Linked DNA regions of Homo sapiens: region 1 is linked to region 2. A link means that fine-mapping ties the variant in region 2 to the expression of a gene that starts in the linked region. Tissue or cell type: whole blood. Region 2 holds a variant in brackets; the other region holds the start of a gene. All regions are shown on one strand. Distances are between the middles of the regions.

Region 1 (16,477 bases), 50 kb before region 2:
TACCATTCAGTTAAGGAGCTTTCTCTCCTAAATAATTCCCAGCAAAACAAATGATTACGTAGAAAAGGTCTTTTAGTGTTATTTTTAGATCTGCCCACTTTCACAATGCTGTTTCCTTCCCCCCATTTCATCTGAATTCTAACAGGAAATGATTTATCAGCTGGCATTAAACTATTGGTCCACGATCTTTTATCCCAATCCTTTGAGGCCAGATGATTTGTGGAAATTCTCTTTTGGGTGCGGTGGTAGGGGTGGAATTTTCAAGAGTAGTGCCATGTCTATACCATATATTACATGATACCCACAGTAAGGTGTGGAGCTGCTCTGAACAATTAAACACATTAACATGTCTGCAATAAAAACATGTAAATATTTGGAATAAAGACTACAAATGGCCTCAGGCCAAGTTTTACCACCAAATGAGTTGGAGGAAAAGTTGATTTCCAAAAGTTTTTGGATTTCAGGATTGAGAATAAGGAACAGAGGAGCTGAACTGACTTTATCCAAAGACTTGGGACAATAATGACAATAGCATCTAAGAGGCTGAGTGTCCAGAGCTATCTCTGAAAAGATGCATTTAAGGTGGAACTATGAGAAAAGAACAGCTCTTGTGTTTGTACAGGTTCTGCCTATAGACATGAGTTTGACTCGTAAGGAAATGAGCTCTGGCCAAGAATGCTACGGGAAAATGGTTATAGAGACTACCATGCCATTAGGAGGTGTTACTGTTTTGATGAAAAGAATACTGTCAGAGGCAGAGAATCTAATCTTTTCCAGCCCTAAGTGTGTGTTCATTAATTTATTCAACTAATAATCTTCCAGAGCTTACCATGTGGCAGGCTCCATTCTAGGAAATGGAGAAACAGGTGCACAAGACACAGTCCTCACACCCTGGAGTAAACAGCTACTCTTCATTGAACGCTCACAATGTGCTCACACCTGGGCCTTCACATGCCTCATCTCTCTCCTTTAATTAGGATTCAAAGCCATGATTTGAGGTCCTGCTTTGCCATTTCCTAACTAAGACTTAACAACTTCTCTAAGTCTCAGTTCCCTCATCCGCAACACAAAGAATAATCGCCAGACAGGGCCGTGGGGGAGGAAGAAACGAGATGCTTTGGAAAGAATTTTGAAAATGGCGGGTGGAGGCTGAGCAAGAATCAACTTTCTGTGGGCAGGGCCTTTCCTCGGCATCCTCGTCTTCATTCATACAACCCCCACTTCAGATGACGACTGTGTACCAGATGAGCCAGGTGCTGGGCGTTCGGCCACACAGAGAATCAGACCAGCAATTACCCTAGGAGAACCGGCAGTGGAGGGGAAGGCTGGACCTCAGGAAAGCCTCTAGAAGGAGAGAGGGACGTGATGGCGTCACGTCACGCCACAGGGATTTCACCTCCTGCGGATGGTAATGGCCTCGCCGCCCTCCCGCCCCCACCTGGACTCCGACGGTGCCGGCAAGAAACGGGAGGAGGGAAGGCAACCGATGTTTCCAGACCCGCCTTGAGCCCCACCACCACTCCCAAGCAGAGGCTGTTACCTGAGAGGAAAGTCGGCCGCTGCCCAACGACCAAACTTCCTCTCCCCAGGATATTCCACCTACTCCAGCCAGGCTCAAGGGCCCAGGCCGGTCCCCACTTCCGCTTCCTCACTTTCTGGCCTGGTGCAGTTCCTGTCAGGGCGTCAAGCAAGATGGTTGCAGATACCTGAGCTGGAGGGTACCAAGGGGAATGAAGGTAAGTGTCTTCGTTTCACAGGCTGCCGGGCTGTGACACTGCCCTAATCCTCCTTTCAAAGAATAAATTTTTTTTTTTTTTTGAGATCTGGGAAATAGTTTAATCAGACACTAGCATTTATTCTTAGCTGCTTTCTTAATTAAATAAAAATGAGTATAAATTAATTTACTAAATGTTCACAACGTAAAAACGGACATTAAAAAAAGAAAAAAAATGCCAAGGTAAGCTGATAATGTTTTTAAAAAGTAGACAATAAAATAATGTATGTAACTTAAAATTTGCCATGATAATTTATTCTTAAAATGGAAAATCAGTAAAATACTCAGACTTCTAGCATAATATCTCTTTTTTTTTATTTATTATTATTTAAGTTTTAAGGACATGGATGAAATTGGAAATCATCATTCTCAGTAAACTATCGCAAGAACAAAAAACCAAACACCGCATATTCTCACTCATAGGTGGGAATTGAACAATGAGAACACATGGACACAGGAAGGGGAACATCACACTCTGGGGACTGTTGTGGGGTGGGGGGAGGGGGGAGGGATAGCATTGGGAGATATACCTAATGCTAGATGACGAGTTAGTGGGTGCAGCGCACCAGCATGGCACATGAATACATTTTTAAAAGTGTGTTACTACTGTCATTTCAACTGACTAGAAATACCACCAGCACGTGATTGCCACCTCAAAGGACTGAGAATGTAATAGTAGTCTATGAAGAGCAGTGTGTGTGATGGACAATGATGGGGTAGCTCCAGTGACTGATGGCTTCAGGTGCCACTGACGGGTAATTGTTGATGTATTCAACTGATTTTCCGTGAGCACCCACTTTGTGCCAGACAGTAAGGACTCGGAGATAAAAAGCAGCCCTCTGCTGGATACGTTTACAGGCTAGTGGAGGTGACAGGCACCGTCAGAGAAGATTGTAACAAGATATGTATGGCATAGTAAGAGAGAAGAGATCATCTAATTCTGCCACTGAGTATTTAAGGGCAGGTTTCACAGAAGAGTTTACATCTGAATTGAATCTTAAAGGATGACAGGGAGTTCACTGGATAGACAAAGTAGAGGAGGACGTAAGAGGCAAAGGACACATCATGTGTAAAGGCATGAAAGCTGAGCCAGCCTATTATCTTGGAAAAACTACATGTACTGTAGTTACTACAACTGTCACAAAGGCTATTAGTGGAGCAGCAGAGGAAGGTTAAATAACAGAGGGAAGTTGGATCATGAAGAACCTTATCCATACTACAAGGTGATTTTATCCAGTAGGCATTGAAAAATGTAATCGAACCTGTGTTTTAATGGAATATTGACTAGGATGAGGGGAAAAGACAGAGGATAACAAAACACTTAGTAGACAAAAGCAACATTTGTTTCTATCTCCTACTACTTCAGTCATAATTATAATAATAATAGCCCACATTATTGATACTGACATGTAGATAGGTGAATCCAATATAAAATGATAGGAGGTATGAAAGAAGTTGGTGAGTTTGGAATATTATTTGACTGGCTATAATATAGAGTAATGGGGTGGGAGCCAGAGGGAAATCGAAAAGGTGACCTGGAAAACATTGTTCAGGGCCTTGAATGCTATGTTGAGGTATTTTGACTTTATAAAATAGTGGGGGACAAACTACAAGTATTTTATACATTGAGGTATAGTTTATGAAGTTTTTTTATATGTATAGCTTATGTAAATCTCAAAGGAATGCTGAGAAGTAGGCGTTATTATCCCATTGTACAGGTGAGAAAGCTGAGTTTGTGGAATATGCATACATTCTACATTATTGAGCACCTGCTATTTGCCAAGCACTATGCTGAGCTATGAGACTAGAAGGAAGTTGTAGTTTAATACTCTAATAGAGGAAACAGGAATAAATCAGCAATTGTAAGTAGTTGCTATAATAAAGGCAAACAATGTTACGGGAGTGAAAGGGGGACTTGTCTATATTTGCATAGTCAGGGAAGGCTTCCTGGAGGAGGTGAGCTTAAACTGAGTTTGGAGAAACAAATAGATTACAGTAATTGCCCAGAGATATTTAACTAGGAAGCAGTTTACCTGAAACTTGAACCCAAATCTCCTGTGTCTAGCTCTTTCCCCTACTCCAAGGACCAATCTTTGGTCCTTGATTTTAAGCTCTATCAGCAACTCAGTCACAAGTGGACTTGTTATGTTTGGAGAAGGTCAGAGATTCCAATTTTTTATTTTTAAATTCATTCATTTTCTCCTTTTAAAATCTCTGTGTGTGCTCAAAGAGTAGATTGGAAGCAGAGGAACTGGAAGAAGAACAGAATGTTCTGATAGTTCAGGCAATAAGTGATGAAGGCCATAACTAAGGCAGAGGTCATGGGCATAGTGTGAATCTCCACTCTGTTCACTCTCCTCACACATATACTTTTACATGTAATGTTAAAGTGTAGCAGTTATGGGATCGGGCTCTGAATATATGTGGCAATGAGAGAGAAGGAGGAGTCTACAGGGACTAAGTTTCTTTTTGGGGTGACCAAGTAAATGACTGTTGCTGTTCACCAAGATGAACATGATCCGAGGGGTCAGTTTGGCAGGAAAGCTGGGGAATTCTGCTTCGGACATTTTGAATCTGAGCAACAGGTGGGAGATGTTCAGGGGACAGTTGAATAGAGATAACTGAAAGAAGAGGGTTTGGGGCTAGGTTCATAGACTTCAGAGTAGTCAGCATATAGAAGGTGATTGAGGAGGCAGATGGGAAGTAGGAGACAGGGTAAGATTAAAGACTGAAGTCCCAATAAACAGTGAGGGAGTTGGTTAGGCTTGGCAAAAGTGTCAAGTGTTACCAGCTTAGTGGAATTAACCCTGTTCAAGTGACAATATGTAAGGGGTCCTTCTTATCTGCTTTCCTCCATTTGGGGGCACAATTTAGTTGCAATACCGTAACATCCACTAAATACAAATATTGCTCTATGGTAGCTTGGTTGGTTTTCTCCTTTAATTTTTTGAACTTGAGGTTCTATAAAAGTGAACACAGTTTGCTTCACCTGACTTCCCGGACACCATTTCTCCTTCTCATCTCCTTGACTCATCCGTTCTCAATTCTATGACCTCTCAACTTTGAAGGAGCCCATTCTCTAACCTCTTGTCTTCTCTATCTATATTCACTCCACAGGTAGTGTTATCCACTTGCAAAGCGGTAAATACTCTTCGATTCTGACAACTCTCAAGGTTTTCTCTTCAGCTTCTCCTGACCTCCAAACTCGTGTATCTAACTACCTTGACCTCTACTCCTGGTCTTGCCTTCCAAACCTTCTCTCCCACGGTCTCTCCTGTCTCAGTAAATGACACATCCTTGCTTCTAGGTTCTCAGGCCATGAACCTGGGAGTCACCTTAACTCCTGTGTTTGTCTCTTATAGCTCTCATGATATCCATGAGCTTACCTTTGAAATACAAGGTGGCTACCCAGTCTAGATAATAAATGATTTATTGATGCTACATTCTAATACAAGATACAATAACATTATCTATGTTTCTAGACTTTATGATCACCCTGTATATTCAAAATCCAACCACTTCCCACCACTCACATCATCCTGTTTTAAGCCACAACCATCTCTGGTCTGGACTATGAAAGTAGCCTCTTTTTTTTTTTTTTTTTTTTTGAGATGGAGTTTTGCTCTTATTGCCCAGGCTGGAGTGCAATGGCGCAATCTCGGCTCACTGCAACCTCCGCCTCCCGGGTTCAAGCGATTCTTCTGCCTCAGCCTCCCTAGTAGCTGGGATTACAGGCATGCGCCACCATGCCTGGCTAATTTTGTATTTTTAGTAGAAATTGGGTTTCTCCATGTTGATCAGGATGGTCTCAAACTCCCGACCTCAGGTGATCCATCCGCCTCAGTCTCCCAAAGTGCTGGGATTACAGGCATGAGCCAACCATGCCTGGCCAACAGTAGGCTCCTAACTGGTCTCTCTTCTTCTGTTCTTGCTCCCTTGCTATCTAATTTCAGCACAACAGCCAGAGCTACCCTTTTAAAACTTAAAACCCAAGTCAGATCATACTACTCCCCAGTTCAAAATCTTCCATTGGCTTCCATCTCACTCAGAGTAAAATCCAAAGGCCTCGCCATGGCAACAAGGCCCTACATGTTCTGCTCTCTCTCTGATCTCCATCCCAACTCCTCTCCACCTCACTCACAGTGTTAAACATGTCTCCACCTGAAGTCTTTGCACTTGCTAGTCCCTATACCTGCAAAAGCTATTTCCCCAGATGTCCATCCAGGAAGTACTGGCTTCTTCACTTTGTTCTAGACTTTGCTCAAATGTCCTTTGATTTCCCAACGTAAAATCGCAACCCCCATCTCAGCCACACTCCCTGTGGCTCTTGCATCATTTTATTTTTCTCCCTAACAGTAGGACCATCTGATGTACCTTCTGTTTCTCCCTTTACCAGAATGTAAGATCCAGGAGGGCAGAGATTATGTTTTGTTCACTGATAGTTTTCCAGCACCTAGAACAGGACTAACACAGAGTAGGTGTTCAAACTTTATTTATTGAATAAATGAAACGAGAATGTCTGAATGCACACTATTAAATAAGAAGTACATATTTTACCATAAAGTTAAATTGAGCATAATTATGGCAAGAAGTTCAGATATTGGCCAGGCGCAGTGGCTCATGCCTGTAATCCCAGCACTTTGGGGGGCCAAGGTGGGCAGATCACCTGAGGTCAGGAGTTCGAGACCAGCCTGACCAACATGGCGAAACCTCAGCTGTCCTAAAAATATACAAATTAGCTGGGTGTGGTGGCAGGTGCCTGCAATCCCAGCTACTCGGGAGGCTGAGGCAGGAGAATCATTTGAACTTAGGAGGTGGAGGTTGCAGTGAGCCAAGATTGCGTCACTGTACTCTAGCCTGGGCAACCGAGCGAGACTCAGTCTCCAAAAAACAAAATAAAACAAAAAACAAAACAAAACAGAAGTTCAGATATAAACAAATGACCCCTCAAAAGGAATTGATTAAAAAAATTTTAAACAAAGTATGGTTTAAAAAAGAAACTTCTCCACTGTGGCTAAGTCCATATTTCACATGTTACTGTATCCTCCTCATCTTGCTGCTATTTTTCTGAGTATCTCATGATAGTGAGTACTGAAATGCTGGCATTCTCACATTAGGGTCTTTATTCTTAGGATCTGCCTTTGCACTCGTTCAGTTACAGAGCTGTTATGAAATAAACCACTCAAGTGGCCTTGCTTCCCTCCCACTATGCTCTACATAACATGTCTGTCAATCAGTACTTACTACCAAAATAACTTGCCTTTGAGATTTTTCTGTTCTGCAATCTGTCCCATGCTTGTAAGGGGAAGGATTATATTCTGCTCCCTGGGGAGTAGTGCCTGGTGCAAAATTAGCTTCCTCATTAGGGTACAAGCTGAAAACACCATGATACTTTCCATGTAACACCATTCAACATTTTCCCTTCGCTCCCACTCCCCAACCATAGAATTTTAGGGACTCCTTTAACCATTTCAAAACCATCGACTTGGGAGCTATCAAAGAATAAGGACTGTAGCCAGAGGATTTCAGCATTTAAAAACTTGGCAATAGAGCTGTTCAGTGTAATGATCCAAGAAGGTCCTTAGAAGGCTGAATAATTCTGAGGTCAAGGTTGAGACGTTATTATTTTTAAAGTAGCAAGATGTTGTTATTTTTAAATTTTATCTTTATAATGTGGAAATAGCAGAGATCCTTTTCAGATATAACCAGGATTTAAGAAAATTTGACAAAGTTGCATTAATAAAAAGAAAGCCTGTTATTAAGGAGCTACAGGGCCGGGTGCGGTGGCTCATGCCTGTAATCCCAGCACTTTGGGAGGTTGAGGCGGGCGGATCATCTGAGTTCAGGAGTTCAAGACCAGCCTGGCCGACATGGTGAAACCCCATCTCTACTAAAAATACAAAAAAAATTAGCCAGGCATGGTGGCAGGTACCTGTAATCCCAGCTACTTGGGAGGCTGAAGCAAGAGAATCACTTGTACTCGGGAGACGGAGGTTGCAGTGAGCCAAGATCATGCCATTGCACTCCAGCCTGGGCAAGAAGAGTGAAACTCCGTCTCAAAAAAAAAAAGGAGTTATGGATAGAAAATTACTTCCTTTAACTCATTCGACAAATATTTACTGAGCATTTTCTGTCACCTTGACACTTTGCTGATTCTTCTTTTCTATTTCAATAAAAATGTTGGGCAATTATAACCAAGGAAAAGGTTTTAAGAAAGTAAATTTTAAGCAAGGTTTAGATATAAAGAAGCAAAGAGATGGAAAAGGATGCCGTTTCACATTGCAGAAAAAGTTTAAATTTTAGAACCCCAAATTGAATCTCTCCTTGACACTCTCCTCTTGGTATTCCAGGGATTAATGCTAGGAACATCCCAGTGAGCCAACATTTCCCTCCTCATCTTGGATCCAGTCCCCAAACTCTGAATGGTGCCACTTAGCAAGTAGCAATGTCTCTAATTTTCTGTAAAAGATGCAACGTTGGCAATCCATTTTCTAGCAAGAGCAAAGAGAAAGGAAGAGGCCTTCACAAGTTGCAGTTGATATAGGGGGAAGGGTGAGTGGTACATTTAAAGGTAAGAACTAAGGAAGTTGAAGGTAACAAAACTCAAGGTCAATGGAAAGTCTTAAATCCCAGAAAGCCTTCAGTCTAAGACTCAACAGAAATTGAAGTCCCAGAAATTGAAGGAACTGGTTCCACCTCATGCTGGACTGTGGCAAACCTGGGGTGAGAATGCATCCCAGCTCAGAATGTTTCTTCTTTTTTTGTCAAGAGTAATATTAGAGGCTGAGTGTATGAACAAAGCATCTTTCCTGGGATTTTAACATTGTGAGTGATCGAGGGTGCTCTTAAATAAGTTCCCCCAAGAAGCCCTAATGTTCCTCTGGATGCATGATTATACTAAGAGAATAAGAGTTTTCCTTAAGATCAGCTTGCTGATGGACCATATCAAGAACTATAAATTTTCTTATGTGAACACAAGTGTTCAGGGGGGATATTGTTAAAACTGAAACCAAGCATAAAGAAGCAAAAGTGTTTCAGTGAACCTCCTGCATTTTAGTTCAACTCTGGCAGCAAGAAAACAAAACCACATAATCTAAGGCTCACGCCCAACTCTCCGAAGCCCCATATGTGCTAGTTCCTGTGTGGTTTGCCTACAGACTGCAGGGCTGACTAGGGTTAGTTTGGAGGAGGGAGTAAGAGGTGGGGAGGAGGAGGCACAGTTAATGGATCTGTAAACTTGCACCCTCTTTCAGAGTGGTACATGGAAGACAGCACAAAGTGGATCCATACTCTGAAATGCAGTAACTCTGATGCTTGAATTTGTCTCCCTTCTTGCCAGAAAGGATTCTAATAACTCGGTGTCAAAGCCAAGACATAAACTCAACCCCTTCTCTTCCAAAAGGTATGTCATTATACAACATCTGTACATATACTCTAGAAACTTTGAACAGTTTTATAATTTGCAGAATGTTCTGTATGAGTTAATTAAAATGAATCTCACTAGTTCTCTAAATATTGCTTTTAAGTCCCATCAGCTAAGGTCTCTAAACCTTTTGCTGTGACAATGTTTGTGGTGATGGGATTTGACTTCTATCAAATGAACTGGGAGAACACTTGTTCCTTACCCAGTCCATAACACAAAAATCTCCACAAACTGGCTTCAGAAGCATCTCAGGGAAAGATTTTCGACCTTGGGATCATGGAGGTAAAATTCCACTTCACCATGGTCAGAATTTAATCCAAATTGGAAGGGATTGGAGGGGGTGGTAGAGGGCTGAGCAGTGATGAATGAACACTAGCACTCTGAGGTCAGGATTTCTCTCTTTGCTTGAATTTCTAGTTCTGTTCGCATTTTTGTTACCTGTACAAAGGACACCAGTTTTCATTCCTTTACGAAAAGAAAACTTTATGTTGAAGTGTATTTTGGAAGGGTATTGTCTCTCTTCGTACTAGCCGTTAGGCTCCATCCCTATGACTGTCTCTGGTTTAGGCGTCCAGTCTGAAGATAGCTGCTTTGTGTTCTTTGTCCCAACTCTTCCTGAACGTGAGGATTGAACATACCAACCAAAGGTTTCACTAATTTAAAATGTACTGTATTGCCCTGACAGGTATACTGTCAAAAAAAATTTACCGTATTTATCTACCTGGAATTAGGCCTTCTTAATAAAGTGTATGCAGCATAATTTGCACACTATTGAACATACACATCCCTAGATAAACTAGGAGTGGGAAGTGTTTTAGATCTAAACATCCAATGGGAAAAATTTCGTGTGTTCTCGTTATGTTATCTGAGGATGGGAAACTTCAGGTCGCAGAATCTTTTGTTCTATGCAGCAATGTTTGTCATAAACGGTTTAGTTCTTTAGTGGCTCCTTTTTGTTTCTTATTTTTGGTTTCGGAAAGAGTATTTAGCAGAAGTTACTCTCCTTTAACAATCCAGTATTTTATGTAAAACTTTATAGAATAATTTTATAGTGATTCTCTTTACAAAACCATCTGCTATTAAATAAGGAACACTGTGTAAATAGAGGACCACCTAAGTATATTTAATTTTCAAATACGAAAAAAATCTGACTCATACCCTTTTTTGTTTTTTTGTAAAAGAGAGGTGGCCCTATATTATTGAATAAAACTGCTTTTTTAGATTGAACTTGGAGTGTCTCCCATGTGGTAAACTGAAATCTTATTCTCCCCAAATTGTAATAGATTTTATCTTTTTAAAAATGACTTTACTGAAGCAGAGGAGAAGGAGATGATCAATCTATTCAATATGAAGAAATATCTCTGTTGCTAATACAATATCCTTTTGAATATCTCCCACATCTTAGGCCCTGGTGAAAATCCCTTTCAATTGTTCTGTCTACCTCGTAGGGATGTTGTAAGAATAAATGAGTTAACATAGATATGAAGTGCCTTAGGAAAAAGGCTCTATAAAAATGCAAGGCGATATCATGATTAGTTGTTTCTTTGACTCTTGATCATTTTCTTCCCACTTCTTATACAAAATGTCTCTCACTTATTTCCTGAAGCCATCTCTTTTAGAACTATTGCTTCCTAGAAGAGCTGAAAATGATCCTAGTTCCAACATATTTATTGATTCCCAGATAATAACACCCACTGGTGTTGATGACTGACAGGGTTCATGCCTAAGCTTGAGTAGAACTTGCCCTTTTTTCCTGGGTCAAGAAAAGTCTGCAATTGTTCGAAAATGTGTCAGTAAGTGTGATTCCATCACGATTTCTTAAATAAGTAACAGTTGCTGCTGGATAATCCTGGGGGCAGATGATTCATTTTTGTGCCCCTATCAAACAAACTCAAAACTTGTTAAAGAATCTTTATAAGTTGTTTGAATCAAACAATAGGGTCGCTAGGTCCCCATTTTGTCCATTTGAGGTATTTGCCCAGCATACCTTGGTCTGTAAAGAAATAGCACAGCCTTGGCTGGGCGCGGTGGCTCATGCTTATAATCCTAGCACTTTGGGAGGCCGAGGTGGGCAGATCTCCAAAAATAAATAATAATAATGATAATAACACAGCCTCATGAGTCTTTTTTTTTTTTTTTTTTTTGAGACAGGGTCTCACTCTGTCACTCAGGCTGGAGTACAGTGGCACAATCACAGCTCACTGCAGCCTCAACTACCCTGGGTTTAGTGATCCTCCCACCTCAGCCTCTCAAGTAGCTGAGACTACAGGTACACACCACCACACCTGGCTAATATTGTATTTTTAGTAGAGACAGGGTTTTGCCATGTTTCCCAGGCTGGTCTTGAACTCCTGAACTCAAGCGATTCGCCTGCCTCAGCCTCCCAAAGTGTTGGGATTACAGGTGTGAACCACTACACCTGGCCTGCCCTTTCTTTTCTCTTAAAAATTCTTAAGAAAGCATGGTCCTGTTTAACAAATAAGCATTTTACAAACATTTATCGATCAATTACTATATGCCAGGCCTGGCACTAGGCACCAAGTCCTCTTCAACAGTGTTAACATTAAGTTTCAATAAACTTGAGTCAGTAGGAATTCAGTAAATAATTTTTAAAGATTGTTTTCTTTTTAAATATGTATTTATAAACAAAAATTTTAGAGAATTAAAAGAAACTATCACGAAGTGCATGATGATAAAAGTCTTATATACTCTCCAAAGAAAATGTTAAGACATACCTTAAGGAGATAGTGAAGAACAGCCGGGCACAGTGGCTCACACCTGTAATCCCAGCACTTGGGCGGCCAAAGCAGGCAGATCATCTGAGGTCAGGAGTTGGAGACAAGCCTGGCCAACATGTTGAAACCCTGTCTCTACCAAAATACAAAAATTAGCCGGGCATGATGGCAGGCGCCTGTAATCCCAGCTACTTGGGAGACTGAGGCACGAGAATTGCTTGAACCCGGGAGGCAGATGTTTCAGCGAGCTGAGATCGTGCCACTGCACTCCAGCCTGGTCGACAGAGCAAGATCCTGTCTCAAAAAGAGGAAAAAAGAAAAGAAAAGAAAAGATAGTGAGAAAATAACTGAACATAAAACATAAAGAAAAGTTGAAATATTAGTACTCACTACCTAGGTTCAACAATTGCTAACTCTTTGCCGTATTTGCTCCATCTATACCTATTTCTTTCTGAATTACTTGTAAGTTGCAGATAAAATAATACTTCACTCCTAAATAATTCAGTACTCATCTAAGAATAAAGGCATTCCTCTATCTAACCACAATTCCATCATTAGGCCTAAGAGGATAAACAGTAAGTCCTTAATATCATCTGATAGCTAGTGCAGATTTAACCTTCCCCATTTGTCCCCCAAATGTCTTCTATACCATTTTTTAAAAAAAGAATCTAATTTTTAAAAATAAGAACATATTTTGCAGTTGGGTCTCATGCTTCTTTCTTCAACATTGGATGTTTTTAAAGATTACGCCAGTTCTCTTGTACCAGGTCCCACTTTCTGAATTCGTTGTTGCCTCATGGTTAATTTGTTCCTCTACCCACTTTATTTCTCATAAGCTCCAAGTTAGGACTAAAAGCATGATTTGATTTTGATTGAACGTTTTTTGCAAGGTGCCACTGGGTGCTCCATATTGCATCTTATCAGGAGGTACAGAATGCCAGGTTGTTCCACTGTGCATGATGCCAAGTTTGATCAGGGCTTGAGGTAGTGATCTTGCTCAGAGGATCTCTTGTTGTACAGGCACTTTTTCACCCTTTGCAATTAGCGAGTACTCTCAGGGGGTATCTCAAAGTGTATCTCATAAACACTTTGGCATGGTGGCAATATCCTATTTCCCAACAAACTCTCACCCGGTGACTTTAGGTAATAATCTTTGCCTAAATTGATTATTTCATTGGAGTTCATATATATTTTTAATACGCTTTGAAGATGGACTCGACATGCAAATTCATCATTATCAGCAGCAATAGTGGCTGGAAATATTTATTGAGTGCATAAGTTCAGGTAATAATAATAATAGTAGGTAATGTTTATTGAGTGCTTGCTGTGGAGCCAAGACAGCCTCGGTGTGAGCCCAGTCTTTCACTTACTAAGCGAATGAACTGGGACGAGTTATTCTTTTTGTGCTTCAGTTTCTTAAGCTATAAAATGGGATTACTAATGGTGCCTATCTCGTGGGATTGTTCTGAAGAGTAAACGATTTATACATTTAAGGTTCCTAAAACAGTGCCTGTTATTATTGTTATTTGCCAAGCATTGTTCTAATACTTTGTAGGTACTAACTCGTCTACTTCTTCTAATGGTGCAATGAAGAAAGTGCTAATAATACCCTTTTTTCACAATGAGGAAACTGAGGTACGGAGAGGTCTAGTACGTTGCACAAGGTCACTTAACTAGTACCTGGTGGAGCCAGGATTTGAACCCAGGCTGTCTGGTTCCTGAGCACTCTCTCTGATGATGGGCACATGCAGTGAGGAGTGATACAAGTGGAGCTGAGTGGAAGTAGCCCTCACACACACTCAGACTTGAAGTTATTGAAAATCCGGGAGGTTGCCACCCAAACACATTTAAGGTTTAATTCATCTGAATAAGAACAGCATTCCACTAAGCCCAGATAAGTACTCTTATTACATTTACATAGCTTAAGGCTCTGTACAAGAAACCTTGAACATAAAATACTTGGAACAGAAAAGAGTAGGAGAACTATGAAGTAATGGGGGGAAAAAATCCCTGAAAGGAACAATACAAGCGGGGAGTTATGAGACCTGGGACCTCAGAGCCTCGGGGTGGAAGATGATATTTTGATATAATCAGGAGGGAGAAATTTCCTCTCATTTTTCACATTTCTGTACTATATAAGATTTTACCATAAAACGCAAGAGTATAAGCCATTGTCAGATTTATAAAAGGCCATGGTGGATTTCCTTAAGAGACGATGGATGACTGTTGTTAGTAGGTAAATTCCCTGGTTGGTTATCTCATACACTCAGATATTCCATAAGTCAGCCTGTGGCTTCTGAAACTGTATTGAGAAAAAGCTGTATAAACTAGGTGTTGGTCCATGCTCCTTCATTAGCATTACAAAAGGGTTCGACTGCTGAGTTGAATCTTATCCACTCCTTCAGTGGCCATTACAGAAAGCTCTCAAGTGTAATTTTCTAAAGAGAACTAAAAATAAATAAGAAAAAAAAAATCCAGCATTAATAATGGTTCTTTTTGCATTTCCAACACAGTCATTGCCAAATTGGTTCTGCCTTTTTATGTTTTTTAATGAAAAGCAGCCTAATTGATCAATTGGTCATGAATAATACTTCTTCGTTTGTTTTTCTCCACACCCCCCAGCCTTCTAGAACCACGGGCTTAATGTGTCGGCCTACAAATGGTTCATGATTTGTGTTTTTTGTCTAGTGCTTTATGGGAAAATATTAGAAACAAACTGCTGAGAACTCAGTAGGAACTCAGTAAATAATAAGTAGATAGTTCTCTTGTTAAATATGATTTTAAAGAAACTCTTTCTAAATAACTAGGAAATATTACAAGGGAAGTACAAAGTGGGGTGGAAAGCCTGGCTGACTTGTAATTTGAAATTTCTCTTCATCATTTTATAGGTCACACAGTTTAACCCTTTATAAAACAAAATGTAAAGTCTGATAGCTGAAAAGGCTCTCCTCCGCTAAATAGATTTGTTTGAAAATATAGATCATTAAATCGGTAAGAATAACAGGAGAATCTCAACCAAACATTGAGACAACTAAGAAAATTGTCTAAATCTAATACCTTATATCAGTACTTTAAGTTGACCATAAATACGCTGATATCCATAGCACATAGGTTCTTACTGGCAGTGGTGGGGTGGGTGGGGGAAGGGGAGTGTCACAGACACATTCAAGATGTCAACGAAAACTATGAAAACTCTCCCCAATGGGGAAAAAAAACCAACGATGCCTAGCACTTATCCTACGCAACTTTGTACAGAATTTCCGTGGGAAATTCTGGTGTCCATCCATCATAAATCACCTGGTGTCCACCCATATATCCTGAATAGGAAAAATTGTCTTTCTCTAGAGTTATTGTACACTGATCCTGATGGAGCTTTAAAAAGAGTTGTCGTACAGGCTCATTGACTTTGGGAGGACAAGGTGGGAGGATTGCTTGAGCGCAGGAGATTGAGACCAGCCTGGGCAACATGGTGAGGCCCCATCTCTACAAGATATTCTTTTAAAAAATTAGCCAGGCCCAGTGGCCCGCACCTGTAGTCCAAGTTACTCCAGAGGCTGAGGCAGGAGGATCCCTTGAGCCCAAGAGATCAAGGCTGCAGTAAGCCGTGTTCACACCGCTACACTCCAGCCTGGGCAACAGAGTGAGATCCTGTCTCAAAAAATAAATAAGTAAATAAAAAGAGTTGCCATTATCTTGTTTGATCTGGCTATGATCTTTGAGGTAGACAGACCACAGATTTTACCTCTCATTCTGCAGAGTGGGAAAAGCAAGGCTTGGAGAGTTTCCGGGACTTGCTCAAGGTAATTTGCTAATGTCTGCCGGGACGTAGCACCAAGCCTGTCACGCTGTAGGCTGGGCCCCTTCCACAACACTGGTCCAAACACAGGATTCTGGAGATGCAGGAGCCCTCGATGGGCTTCTGGAAAGCTGAATTCTGGCTCTACCAGAGCTACCCACGTGATCTTAAACAAGTCACCTAACTTCCCTGAGCTTCAGTTTCTTCCTTAGTCAAGTGAGAGGTTAGACTGTGTGTTCTCTGAAGCCCTTTGATTTTCTGCAGAAAACCACCTAATCCCACTGGGTCTGGGAACAGAGGGAAATGACCTTTTCTGCCATAGATGGCAAGACCCTTCACCCTTCCCTGTAGGGCATAAGAGCTGGCATCCAATTCTTAACGGATTCCCTTGCAATGTCCAAATCCCATTAGAAACTACAAACATCTCAATAGTGCCTTTGTGGGCTGCTTGGGTGTCATGCCGCTGGCTGCCTCACTTGCTGCAGGGCTGACTGTCCACATCAATTATACTCCAACCCTGTGCTCTGCAATGGGCAGACATCCCATGAGATTTTATTACCCCTCTTGGGTAGTTCAGGGAGTCATATGGAAGTAAATAATGCTGATGGGCTTATTTTGGGCTGATAGATCCTTATCCTTCTAAAGAGGTTATGCCTTTCAAAGGGTACAAAACCTTCTCCTTGATTTTTTATTACGAACAGTTATATCCTTTAATGTCCCAGAATTGTTCTTGGAAGTTGGAGACTCAC
Region 2 (13,310 bases):
ATCTATCAGGTTGGCGGGGTGGGGGTTGGGGGCTGCTGCTGGAGGTGGTTTGGCTGCCCCTAGAGGCTGCAGCGTCTCACACTGTATGGGCAGGTAGCATTTCAGCCATTTCTAAAGCCCATCACTGGCAGGGAAAGCACATTTAATCCGTCTGTGAGGTTCTCTAAAAAGGGGCCTCTCTTTTCTTTCTTTTTTTTTTTTTTTTTTAAGATGGAGTCTCACTCTGTCGCTAGACTGGAGTGCAGTGGTGCAATCTCGGCTCACTGCAACCTCCACCTCCCGGGTTCAAGTGATTCTCCTGCCTCAGCCTCCCAAGTAGCTGGGACTACAGGCACACACCACCATGCCCAGCTAATTTCTGTATTTTTAGTAGAGATGGGGTTTTCACCATGTTGGCCAGGATGGTCTCCATCTCTTGACCTCATGATCCGCCCGCCTCCTGGGATTACAGGCGTGAGCCACTGTGCCTGGCCGAGGGGTCTCTCTTTTCAGAAGTCAGAAGCGCTGAAATTGAAAACAGCAGCAAGAAGGCTTCATTGCATTCTTGAATTCAGGCTGTTGCACTCCGCCCCCCACAACTCTGTCTAAATTGTTGCTACCCAGTTTATATCTGCATCATATTTTTTGTTGTTGTTTCTCCAATGCAGTATGTAGTGGTGGCAGGTACAGATCATAAAACAAATGGATAATCAGATTCCTTTTTCCCTGGTGGTAATTTTTAAACTTTTCAAAATTAATGCTAATGGATATAGAGGAATGGGATATACATTTCCATGCATTTTTATGACCAAACAGAAAACCGACCCCTGAGGGTGACATATTTACTATTCTCTACTACTAGGGGTGCTTCAAGGGAAGAGTTTTTGAAGCCCTGTGGTTTAAACAAAAAGAGAACATACCCCACCCCACCCTGAACAAACAGCAGCTGGGCAGATTTCATCTCACAAATGGAAATGGGAGCAAACAAATTTTTTCAAAGCGATTTTATAAAGAGTGGGCCTGTTTAGTTGGGTTTTTTGAGCCAGGATTAATATTACAAGCTGGGGAGCTCTGTGACATGGCTGTGTCGTTGGCTTTGCCATACCGCCTACCTCCTGGGGGAAGGCAGAGGAAAGTGCTGCTATTCAGAAGCAATTTTACTTCTGCCTCGGCCTTCTCACTTCTCACTGAAGTGATTTACAGCCAGCCTGGACCCAGTGCCCAAGCCTGAGCTGAGTTACATGTCATGTTGGAAAGATCTTCCCCAAATCAAGGTCTTATCTAGAGCTTGCCTGGGATATTTTTTCATTTCTAATTTATGTAACTTTCTAATATGTTTAGCATTTGCCCTTCCCTTGTCTCCATCCTGCTTATTAAGGTGAATTTGCATACAAATGGGACCTTGGTCTTCAGGACCATTCACCTGACACTTGATCCCACGAGGCGACCACTGTCTACTGTTGATACCATGAGGATGACCCACAGAAGTCATGTCTCTCTGCAAACTAGAGGCAAGGCCTTAATTAGAAGAAGCCTTGTGTGTTAAAATGATGGGGTGAATCAAATCAGCAAAGGCATTTAGCATTAACTTAGGAGGGCAGAATACTCCTTCCTGTTGAGTGGGTCGTCCTAGGTCACAACAATTTTAATTTGCCTTCGATAGATGGATCTTGAAGAAAGTGTACAAAAAGTATATTTGTGATGGTGTTGTTTGGGAGTACGTTTTGACTCAAAGAGTTAACTGTGACATTTTACTTTGGCTCCTGGTCTATTTTTTGCTTAACATCTACCTTTGAATGGGTAATAGTCATCTCTATAAATTACCTTCGAAAGATTGAACAATTGTGGAGAATCAGAGAAATGAGCCCCTTGCTATCACCCTGTTGCAGTCGGCTTTAATCCTCTGATCTCCTGGCGTTTCACCCTCTCACTGGCAGCCACCTTCCTTATTTACCCAAATCTTGTTAACTTGGGTAGGAATTCCCACTGAGAGGACAAATGTGGTCCCAGTTGACTGGTCGCTGAAAGTCTATTAGGTTGGAGAGTATTTATTTTCTACCCTAAAGGGTTTGAAACTTAGGGAAATTTTGATCAACAAGAAAATAACAGCTTTCAAGATTGTCCTGACAGTTAAGCTGTCTTAGCAGAGAATCACAGGATTTGATAGTCATGGAGATTAGTTCTCAAATTTCAATGAGAAAAGTTCATAGGAGATGGAGTGAGGAAAGAAAACTTGTGCTGATTTTGGTCAGGCTACCTTTGCTGGGGAAAAATTCATTCCATAAAATTATTTTAAAACGTAAATACTATTTAGCTTTATCTGGTGTAATACTTTGCATCTATAATTTTTTTGTTTTGTTTTGTTTTTGAGACAGAGTCTTGCTCTGTCACCCAGGCTGGAGTACAGTGGCATGATCTTGGCTCACTGCAACCTCTGCCTCCCAGGTTCAAGCGATTATCCTGCCTCAGCCTCCCAAGTAGCTGGGATTACAGGCACGTGCCACGGCACCCAGCTAATTTTTGTATTTTTAGTAGAGACAGGGTTTTGCCATGTTGGCCAGGATGGTCTTGAACTCCTGACCTCAGGTGATCTGCCCGCCTCGACCTCCCAAAGTGCTGGGATTACAGGCATGAGCCACAGCGCCCGGCCTGCATCTATAATTTGATTTAACCTTGCAACTTTATTAATTGAATATTATGATCACCATTTTATAGATGAGGAAATGGAGACTCCAAGGGTTTAATTACTTGCCCAAGAGTCTACAGCTATCTACCAACAAAACTGGGATTGGAGCCAGCTGTCTTACCATTACATCCCCGCTGCCTCCTAAAGCACAGCTCTAGTTCATACTAAATGTATTACATAGGCCGACTCATTTATCTTTACATGGGTCTCATGCATTACAAGAAGGGGGCCACTATTTTAACTCAATTCAAAAATGTTAAAATCAAAATTCCCAAAATGTACTTGGTTTATAATATATCATAAAATAAGTAATCTGACCAATTGAGCCTCCCAACTCGAAGACCAAGAACTTCTTTCTACTCCCAAACCATGCAGAAGGAAGCTGAGTTCCCCACTGGCCAATGCTGTCTAATTCTCTTAAATGATTCAGATGTAAAAGAGGAAATGGCATCCGTCTAATTAACACTGCCTGGTTAAATATAGCTGCCAAGGGACAGCCTTGGGACAGTGTTTACAGAATAGTCTTTCCAGCCCCTCAGGCCTCAAGTTACAGATGATAGCAAGCCTTCCCTCCTTATCAGCTGCAAACAGAGATGCCCCCAAAAGTGGTGTCAGGCCAGGATGATGAAAGGAGAAGGGAAAGGCTGCGGATGGCCTTCATTTCCTGCTCCTGGCATCTGGGGATTCCGAGAATGATCCCAGGACCTAGATCCTATAGATTCCGGCAGCTCTTCCTGCAAACACAAGCCCTTGTTGTGTGCCTGAGCCTTGCTCTCCGGCCTGGAGACATCCATCTGCCCACTCTCCTAGGAACTGCTGATTACCAGGAAGCACCATCGGCTCTGCTGCCCTCCCCCTGGCAGAGAGGCACAATGACCACATTATTTCTCTTCCAGCTTCACGTTACAGCATGGAAGCTGTTGCCAAGTTTGATTTCACTGCTTCAGGTGAGGATGAACTGAGCTTTCACACTGGAGATGTTTTGAAGGTAGGTGACCTGGGGCCCCAGGGGAGCAGTAGGGAGTTTCAGTTACTCAGTAATCTGACAGTCCCTGCCTTTGTCTCTTAAGAACTGCATGTGGTTCCTTTTAAAAAGAGAAGTTCACCTTGATTCCCTTTGTGCACCCTTATACCAGACACCAACCAGGCCGGGTGATGGAAATACAGTCGGCATAAGCCACCATCCTTGTCCTGGGAGGTTCGTAGTCTGGAGAGGGGAACACATCCACCCAAAGGGCTGTTACAGATGTTCTTGGCTAAGTTCTCAGGGAGCACAGGTGAGGGAACAAGTGATTCCATCTTGAAAGATGGGGGTTGTAGGAGTGTGTGCAATGTGAACGTCAGGAATGCACTGAAGGTGACTTGGGCTTTTAGCTAAAGCTCAGAGATGTGCAAGCCCATGCTGAATGCAGGGAGCAGCGCCAGGCTCAGCAGAGCTGGAACTCAGGAGGAGAGGTTGTGGGTGGAGACAGCTTGGGAAAGGCAGCCACAGAGGACATGGCTCAACAAAGGCCATGCACACCTGGCCACTCAGGGGCTTTTTAAAGCTTGTCCTCATCCTGCACTTGAGTTGTAGTGGCCACTTGCTGAGCTGAAGTGGCCTTGGACTTCTCCCACATTCATGCACCATACTTTCAGACTCTGCATCTTAGCCCTTGGGTTTTTGTTTTGTTTTGTTTGTTTGCAAAAGAGCATAAGCCCTTCAAAAGGGCATTTGGGAGTGTGTGGAGCCAGACCCCCTCTGCCTGACCTCAGAGCACCCTCAGATAGCCTGATCCCTGGTCCTCAGATAGCCTGATCCCTGGTCCTCAGATAGCCTGATCCCTGGTCCTCAGCAGTCCCAATGAGCCTTCTCGGACGCCCAGCAACACTGAGGCCATTAGTGTCTCACCACCGAGAATTAGGTTTGTTATACAAAGAACCTTGTCAGCATGTGAGAGGGTGACATTGAAAGTGTCTGAGGAGCACAAAACACCACAGAATGGCTTCTTTTGGAATATGAACATGCCCATTAGGTAGCCTTCTAACTGCTCTCAACTTTCAAGATCTAGTAACATAGTGGCAAAGCATAGGCCTTCACAAACTTAAAATATGAGTTGGGCCTCCTGACCCAGGAAAACCTGTCTGTCACTGCTTTGGGGTCTTACGAAGCTCCTGGAGGGACTTGCCAAGCAGCGAGAAGTTCCTGCCTTCTCTGTGGGGCACTGTGATCATGTGACTGTCATCCACTGGAGACCATCCTTGTACCAACTTCCACCCTCGTCTTCCATTACAAAGAGAACCTGGTATCTTAAGTTTTCTCTATTCCTCAGAAAAGGAAAAAGGAAAGAAAAAAAAAAAAAACTTTGCTCAACTCTGCTTCCCAATCCAGCTCCTGATTTCTTTCCTCCCCTTTGTTGCTAATACTGGGAAGAATTCTCTACACTGGGCGTGCTTCACTTCCTCACTTCCCACTCATTCCACAACTCTCTGGAATCTGCCTTTTACCCTCCCTGCAACATTCTCTTGAAGTTCACCAGTGATCTCCTTAATGTGTAGTATAATGACCCTATGGAAATGTCTGTGGGATTGACACTGCTAACTGGCCCTCTCCTGGAAGCCCCTTTCTCCCTGGCTTTGGCAGCACCACCCTCTCCGGGTTCTTCTCCTCCCTTCCTGACCACTCCTACAGGTCTCATTTCCAAGCATTCTTTTTCCTCTCTTGATCCTGAAATATACACTTCCCTGAAGGTGCTGCCTTTGGCTTTCTGATTTTTCTTCTCACTCTGAGCCACCTCATCCACTTCTTCAGCTGCAACTATCACCTCTGTGCCAAAGACCCTCAAGTCTGTGGCTCGTGTTCTAGCTCTGGCCTTGCTCTTGAACTCCAGACCCAGACTTCCAATTGTCTGCTGGATGTCCCCACATGAACTCCAGCCCCTAACTCAGGATGCCGAGAATCACTCAAACCCCCATGCCCATCTCACCCCCATTTCCACCCAAGCCACTCTTCTTTCCATGTTCTAATTATTATCCTAGGTCAGTCACAAGCTAGAAGCCCCAATTATCATCAATGCCTCCTTTACCAAATCCTGGTGACCAGTAACCAACGTCTCCTGAGCTCCTGTTCAGGGCCAGGATCTAGCTAAGTGGTTTGCAGGCATGATTTCATCATCTCAGCAAACCTGTGAGGTAGGCATTCATTTCCCCTCCATTTCATAGATGAGAAACTGAGGCTAGGGATTAAATCACATGTCCACAGTCACACAGCTAGCATGTGACCAATCCAGGACCTGGACAGAACTCTGTCTGACTCCTAAGCACTAAACTCTGCTCTGAATGTATTTTTTTCCTCATATCTCTCAAGCAAGTCTCTTCTTCACCAGAAAGGAGTGTGAGGCAGTAAAAAGGAGCATAGACTTTGAGTCAGATGGATCTGAGTTTGAATCCCAGCTTACTAACCATGGAGACTGGGGCCCAGTCATCTGCCCCCTTTGAGCTTTAGTGTCTTCCTCAGCAAGTGGAGGTAGTATCCATCTTGCCGGGTTGTGGAGAGGATTCGAGGTGATGACCCTGTCCCAACGTAGACGCCCAATAAATGGTGGCCCGCATTATCGGGATCATCCATCCCCGCTGCTTCTGACTGCTCAGATCATTGCCACAGCTCCTTGACTGACCTCATTACCTCTTGTCTTTTTCCTCCTTCACTCATTCTTCTTACTAGTCCCAGAGGGATCTTTCCAGACAAATCAGATCATATCATTTCCTTGCTCAAAAGCATTCAGGGGTTTCCAATTACCAATTGATTGAGACTGAAAACATCTGGCCCCAAACCACTGTCCAGTGTCATTATGCACATGTACACATGTGTGCACACACCCACACAGAGACATCTTTGTAGATGTAACGCCCCCAGGTTGCACTGCAATGTATACACCGCCCTTTCTCAGCCTCTCCCCTATATACTCTGATTGCCCCTCTCCTACACACACATACTTGACCTCCTCTACCATGGAAACCTCGCTGGTCCTCTCCACTCCCTACCATCCCAGGGAAACAAATCACTCCCTCTTCAGCTCCTCCCCAACATTTCACATAAACTTCACTCATTTCCAGGCACTTATGACTTTGCCTCACATGGCAGCTATTTATAGGCAGGCCATGACCCTGTGGTCTCATGCACCCTCTATTTCTACCTCTCATTGCTGCCTTTGCCCCGTGGGATCCTAATTGCTCGTTTATGTGTTGTCTACTCCACTAGCAAAAGCTGTGCAAGGGCAGGGGCTGTTTCTGCCTCAATGTCTAGAAGAGCTGTGCCTAGAACTCCCTGACACTTGACGAATGAATGAACTTTCAATTCCTCTCCATTCCCTGAGAGCAATGTCATGCACGTGTGCACACAATGCCAGGTTCGTCTTTGTGTCTTCACAGCATCTAACACAAGTCATGGCCCAAAATAGATGCCCAGTACATATTTCTTGAATTGCTAAATTGCATTTCTTCCTGTTCATTTAGAATTCCATTGGAAAGCCAACCCCCTCCCTCTTTTCAAATTCTGTCCATTGCAGGTAAAGAGCAAAATGGGGAGGGCTTGTTGACTGAGCCCCACAGAATGTCTACAGGATGGTGATTGGTTCCCATGGCTGGGACTCCCCACATGTGATTGCAATGTCTGCCCCCCACCTTCCTCAATGGGTAACACACCCAGGATCCTCACAAATACTTTCAAAGCCAGCTCCTGACTACCCCAGCAATTCGCTTCTGGGATTCTCTGACTTGTTTGGCCTTTTGTGCTAAAGACTAAACAGAGGTTTTCATTAGAAAGGTACAAAAAAGTCTGAGCAGCCACCCACCCTCAACAGACCATCAGTTTCCTGGGGCAGAGGCCCCAGCTTATTTATCTCCATATTTCATGCACCTAAGTGCAATCAGCAGGTGCTCACTAGATGGTGATCTACACGGCATGTAGATCAAGATGGTGGACAGGAAAACGCTGCCAAATGACTTGATCCTGCTTCTCCTATGACGGAAACATTTGGAAACTCAGGAATCAGATTTTTTTCCTATTCATGCCACAAACCACCATACCTGCAGCTACACACAGCACCAGCCTCACATTTGAATTTGCCATTAAATTTGCCAGTAGCTTTGAAAAATATCTCTTGACCCAGTCCATTTCTGTCTCCTTCTGTAATGCAGCTAATGCGACCTCATTTCTTCCTGCTAAAATAGCAACCTAAAAGCACTAAGAGTTAATTCCACATAATTCATTTCTTCAATACTTCAGATTTTTGCTATGTTTCTAAAAGCTACAATTTCATCCAATTTAAAAATTCTTCCAGCCGTAATTTGGCCCTTCTCTTCCCACGTCTAACTTATTCACAGGCCATGTAACCCAAAAAATCATCTCTTAGGGAACATTATAAGAATTAAGAAACAGTCAAGAGTAAAACTTCAAGTGTTCAGGCTGAACGCCTTGCTCAGGTTTACACGATGGGTACACGAGATAGGGGGAACCGAACAGATGGAGAGATGAGAAGAACAGGAAGTGTGGGGCCCTGGGCCCACAACGGCAGGAGGAAACCATCTCCCCTCCCCTCAAATACTTTTCTTTGCAGAAAATGAGAATTTTTTTT[A/T]AAAAAAAACCTCACCTTCTATACATGGTAAAGAGCCTGCAAATTCACCTCTCTAGAAACACAGTGTTAGGCAGACCAAGCACCAGGTGGCGGAGAGAAATGGCTGGCATTGTGGGATAATCTTTCAGTTTCTAGAGGAGGTCTGAGGCATGATAACTAAAATTACAGAGCTGCTTTCAGGTCAGAAAATGAAGTACAAAGTGTGTGGTTTTTTTTTTTTTTTTTTTCTTTTTGAGACAGAGTCTTGCTCTGTTGCCCAGGCTGGAGTGCAATGGCGCAATCTCGGCTCACTGCAACCTCCGCCTCCTGGGTTCAAGCAATTCTCGTGGCTCAGCCTCCCAAGTAGCTGAGATTACAGGCATGCACCACCATGCCTGGCTAATTTTTGTCTTTATGGTAGAGATCAGGTTTTGCCATGTTGGCCAGGCTGGTCTCAAACTCCTGACCTTAGGTGATCCACCCGCCTCAGCCTCCCAAAGTGCTGGGATTATAAGCGTGAGCCATGGCACCCGGCCTCAACGTGTGGTTCTTACGGTGACAAGGTAGTTTCCAAATGGCCTCTTTTACCCCTTTCTGTGTGACATTTGCTACCCTGGCCAAACACCACATTCCCATGTGACGGGAGAAAGGAATTCCAATGCCATGAATTCAGAAGCGATGGATGGAGTGCAGTGTGCTCTTGTGTTTTTACGTGGCTACGAGGCGCTGCTGCTGGGTTTCCTAGTTCTTTTGACCTAGATTTTCTGCTTCCTCCCTTGCCCCCTCAGCACACACATACCCACATGTCCTTAGTGACACCAGCAGTCACATTTGATGTTAGAAACTATAAAGTTTTCTGTTCTCAGCAATCTCAAACTCAAATATGGGACACACTTTTATTCCTTCAGAATAAATGACTAAATTCAAAACATACACACATAATGCTTTAAAGAACGTATAAACCCTTCCATGTCCTATTCAGAGCTGGAGGCCTCCCTCATAAGAATACCACATTTGATGGAATTGTATTTTTTGAAAAGAGTCTACACTTTCTGAAGGACTTTCAGGTACCAGGGCTCATTTGATCCTCACATCAGCTCTGTGAGGTGCTAGGTGGCTATTATTATCTCCATTTTTCAAATGGCTGATTGACTTGGCCAAGATCACATATCTAGTGATGGAGCCAAGCTAGAAACCAGGTCTTCTCGTTCCCAACTCACAACACTGTCCCCTTCCTTCCACCTTGGAGTGATGTTAGAAATAGGTCATCATCTCCACTCAAGCACTTAGTTCTTTCCATTATCTTCCCATCTTCTTTTCTGGGAGAAAGAAGCCCAAGGGCCCTGTGACTTCAACTCCACCCACTTTCTGATGACTCTGAAACCCCAAGCCCCAACCTTAGCCTCTCTCCTGGGTCCAGACTGACATATCCAGCTGCTCCCTGAGCTTTTCTTCTTAGTTGAAGAATTCAACTCACAGTCACCCGCATGCAATCTGAAGCCCATGAGCCCTTTCTCAGCCCTGCCTCCTCTCATGTATCTTCTATTTCTGTAAAGCCGTCACCACCTACTCAGTCTCCCAAGCCAGAAATCCAGTGGCATCCCAGAGTCCTCCTCTCCCTTAGCTTCCAAGATTGGTCAAGAAATCCTGCCTGTTTGCTTCCTGAATTTCTCTAAAATATATCCTCACCTCCTCTTAGCCTAGGCCCTATCATCTCTTGACTGGAGGCCTGCGCTCATCTTCCTGCAGTTTTTCTGCCGACTTTAGCCTTGCAATCTATCTTCACATTCTGATCTCTGATACAGAGCTCTGTCGCTCTCTCGCTCTCTCTTAATTAGAGACAGAGTCTCTCTCTGTTGTCCAGGCTGTAGTACAGTGGTACAATCAGAGCTCACTACAGCCTTTAACTCCTGGGCTCACACCCTCCTCCCGCTTCAGCCTCCTGAGTAGCTGGGACTACAGGTGCGCTTCCACCACGCCTTGCTAAGTTTTATTTTTATTTTCATAGAGACAAGGTCTCGCTTTGTTGCCCAGGCTGGTCTCAAACTCCTGGGCTCAAGCGATCGTCCACTTGGGCCTCCCAAAGTGCTGGGATTACAGGCATGAGCCATCGCACCCAGCCAGAGCTCTTTCTGAACTCTAATTCTTACTGTTACTTCCCTGCTCAAAATCCTTTAAGGGCTCCCCCTACATTTCAAGATATTCACAGTCTACATTCCAGCCACCTGGAGGCATTTCATTCCCAGAACACACCACACCTCCTCAGAGCTGAAGGAGGAAGTCCATTGCCATCTGACTTGGCCTCAGTAACTCCTTTCGTTGCCAAGGCAAGTGGTCTCTCCTCTACATATGGATGCCTTTTCTATCTATTTCTGCTTTCTTCTTTATCATCACACTTCTATCAGTTAAGATATTTTCAGGAGCAAGAAACATAAACTAAAAATGGCTTAAACAATAACAAAGACTTGTAATTTCTCAAAGTCCAGAAGTAGGAAGGCTCCTGGGTATCATCTAATTCAGCGGTTCAGTGACATTATCAGAGTTCTTTCCATCTTTTGCTCTGCTATCCTTATTTAGAATTATTGTTCTAGTCTATATCAAAGACTTAAAAAAAATTTTTTTTTTGAGAGAGGCTTGCTCTGTTGCCCAGGCTGGAGTCCAGTGGCAAGATCACGGTTCACTGCAACCTTGCCTCCTGGGTTCAAGCAATTCTCCTGCCTCAGCCTCCCGAGTAGCTGGGATTACAGGCATGTGCCACCAGGCCCGGCTCCTTTTTGTATTTTTAGTAGAGATGGCATTTCACCATGATGGACAGGCTGGTCTCGAACTCCTGGCCTCAAGTGATCTATGTGCCTTGGCCTCTCAAAGTGCTGGGATTACAGGCGCGAGCCACCACACCTGGCCTCAGACTTTCAAAACATTCTCAGTGGCGGTGTCAAATATTTTGTCTTTTAATGGTGAATCTCATTTTTTGAGAAACCAGAAGCCACATACAGTCAAGTCTGGTGAGTAATATGAGTAACTGAGGTAGACAATAACATTTGGGGTCACAGTCAAAGTCAGGCCACAGAGTAACAAGACAGAACTTTTGGTTTTGTTTGGGATCTGGCTTTAAAAGCAAGTTTAGAAAAGGCATCCCAAGTATCTTGGGTTCCAGCCAAATATCTGTGAAATACACAGCATGTGAACACAAAGAGTTACTGTTTCCAAAGCTGGCCCCACTGGGATGTTTAAGTTTTAATCTGCCTGTTTAAAAAACAATAACAAATTGAATTTTTGAAAAGTTTCCTGGGCCTGGTGGCTCACGCCTGTAATCCCAGCACTTTGGGAGGCCAAGGCAGGTGGATCACTAGGTCAAAGGATCAAGACAGTCCCGGCCAATATGGTAAAACCCCGTCTCTCCTAAAAATATGAAAAATTAGCCAGGTGTAGTGGCGCATGCCTGTAATCCCAGCTACTCAGGAGGCTGAGGCAGGGGGATCGCTTGAACCCAGGAGGTGGAGGTTGCAGTGAGCTGAGATCCCGCCACTGCACTCCAGCCTGGCGACAGAGCAAGACTCTGTCTCAAAAAAACGAAAAACAACAACAAAAAAAAGAGAAAAGTTTCCTGGTTACCTGGAAGAGAAAAAAAAAAATACACCGTGGAGTAACCATTCTTCCTTCTCACCATCTGCTGAGATGAGGAACTTAAGGTGCTAACTGGGACAAATGAATTTCCAAAATAGAAAAAGGGATTCAGGGAAGTCCTTGAGTGCTGAATTTGGGAGGCCAAGCCACAGTGGGGTGACATGAGTGGACGGCACAAGTGGACAGAAATAACCTGGGGTCAGGAGAAGCTGACTCCAAAGGTAAACCCACGGCTCCTCCACAGGCCTGGGGTAAATCCTAGAACAGCTGTTGAGTTCTTTCAACTTATTAACATATTTTCCTCTAAGTCCAAAAGGGCCTTCTTTGCCTGGCAGCCCCTTTCTCTTGTTTTTTTGGTGTCCTCCCTCCAATGTCTTTGTCTTTCCTTTTCTTCCATGTAGATTTTAAGTAACCAAGAGGAGTGGTTTAAGGCGGAGCTTGGGAGCCAGGAAGGATATGTGCCCAAGAATTTCATAGACATCCAGTTTCCCAAGTAAGTATCTGCAGCCTGCTGAGATGGGCCTAGCCACACACACTCCTCTTACATTTCCAGCAGTCACTACAGTTATCCATGGGAACCCAAGACATTGTCAAAAATGGCTGCCTCTGGAGCTCTCTCCGGAGAGCCTCCAGAGCATGCAGCTGAAGGCCAGGGCAGGAGGGAGACTTTGCATTTCATTTCATTCCCTTTTGATGTTTACACCATGTGCATGTATTGCTATTTTAAGTTGTTCTTAACTTTTTTTTTTTTTTTTTGGGAGTTGGGGTCTCCCTCTGTCACCCAGGCTGGAGTGCGGTGACTCCATCACCACTCACTGCAGCCTAAAACTCCTGGGCTCAAGCCATCCTCTCACCTCAGCCTCCCAAGTAGCTGGGATTACAGGCACATGCCACCACGCCAGGCTAGTTTTTGTATTTTTAGTAGAGACAGGGTTTTACCATGTTGGCCAGGCTGGTCCCAAACTCCTGACCTCAAGTGATCTGCCGCCTCAGCCTCCCAAAGTGCTGGGATTACAGGCGTGAACCACCATGCCTGGCCTATTTTAAGTTTTGGGTTTTTTTGGGTTTTTTTATTCATGTGTTTATTTGTTTTGAGACAGAACCTTGCTCTGTTGCCCAGGCTGGAGTGCAGTGGCATGATCTCGGCTCATTGCAATTCTCCTGCCTCAGCCTCCCTAGTAGCTGGGATTACAGGTGCATGCCACCACACCCAGCTAACTTTTGTATTTTTAGTAGAGATGGGGTTTCACCATGATGGACAGGCTGGTCTCAAACTCTTGACCTCAGGTGATCCACCCGCCTCGGCCTCCCAAAGTGCTGGGATTACAGGTGTGAGCCACTGCACCCGGCCTATTTTAAGTTTTTATAAAATGAGTTTGTAAACTCAAATTATCTATAGTGATTTCAATCACGGCGTTCCCCAG

The links.
Region 1: GRAP2 starts here. The variant in region 2 is fine-mapped to the expression of GRAP2 in whole blood (TOPMed, PIP above 0.99).

Annotation. Positions count from the first base shown.
Region 1 is chr22:39,892,155-39,908,631 of GRCh38, forward strand. It overlaps GRAP2 (GRB2 related adaptor protein 2), which reads left to right and starts at 8,930. Exons shown (of 8, transcript NM_004810.4): 1 at 8,930-9,176. It overlaps ENTHD1 (ENTH domain containing 1), which reads right to left and starts at 1,606. Exons shown (of 7, transcript NM_152512.4): 1 at 1,541-1,606.
Region 2 is chr22:39,943,532-39,956,841 of GRCh38, forward strand. GRAP2 (GRB2 related adaptor protein 2) reads left to right here. Exons shown (of 8, transcript NM_004810.4): 2 at 3,562-3,653; 3 at 12,288-12,379. The coding sequence starts at 3,576. Among named protein-coding and RNA genes, the nearest start is that of TMA7B, 10 kb to the right of the region's middle. RefSeq lists enhancers at 7,116-7,355, 8,120-8,289 and a silencer at 8,390-8,449. The variant A/T (reference allele first, on the strand shown) is at 8,281.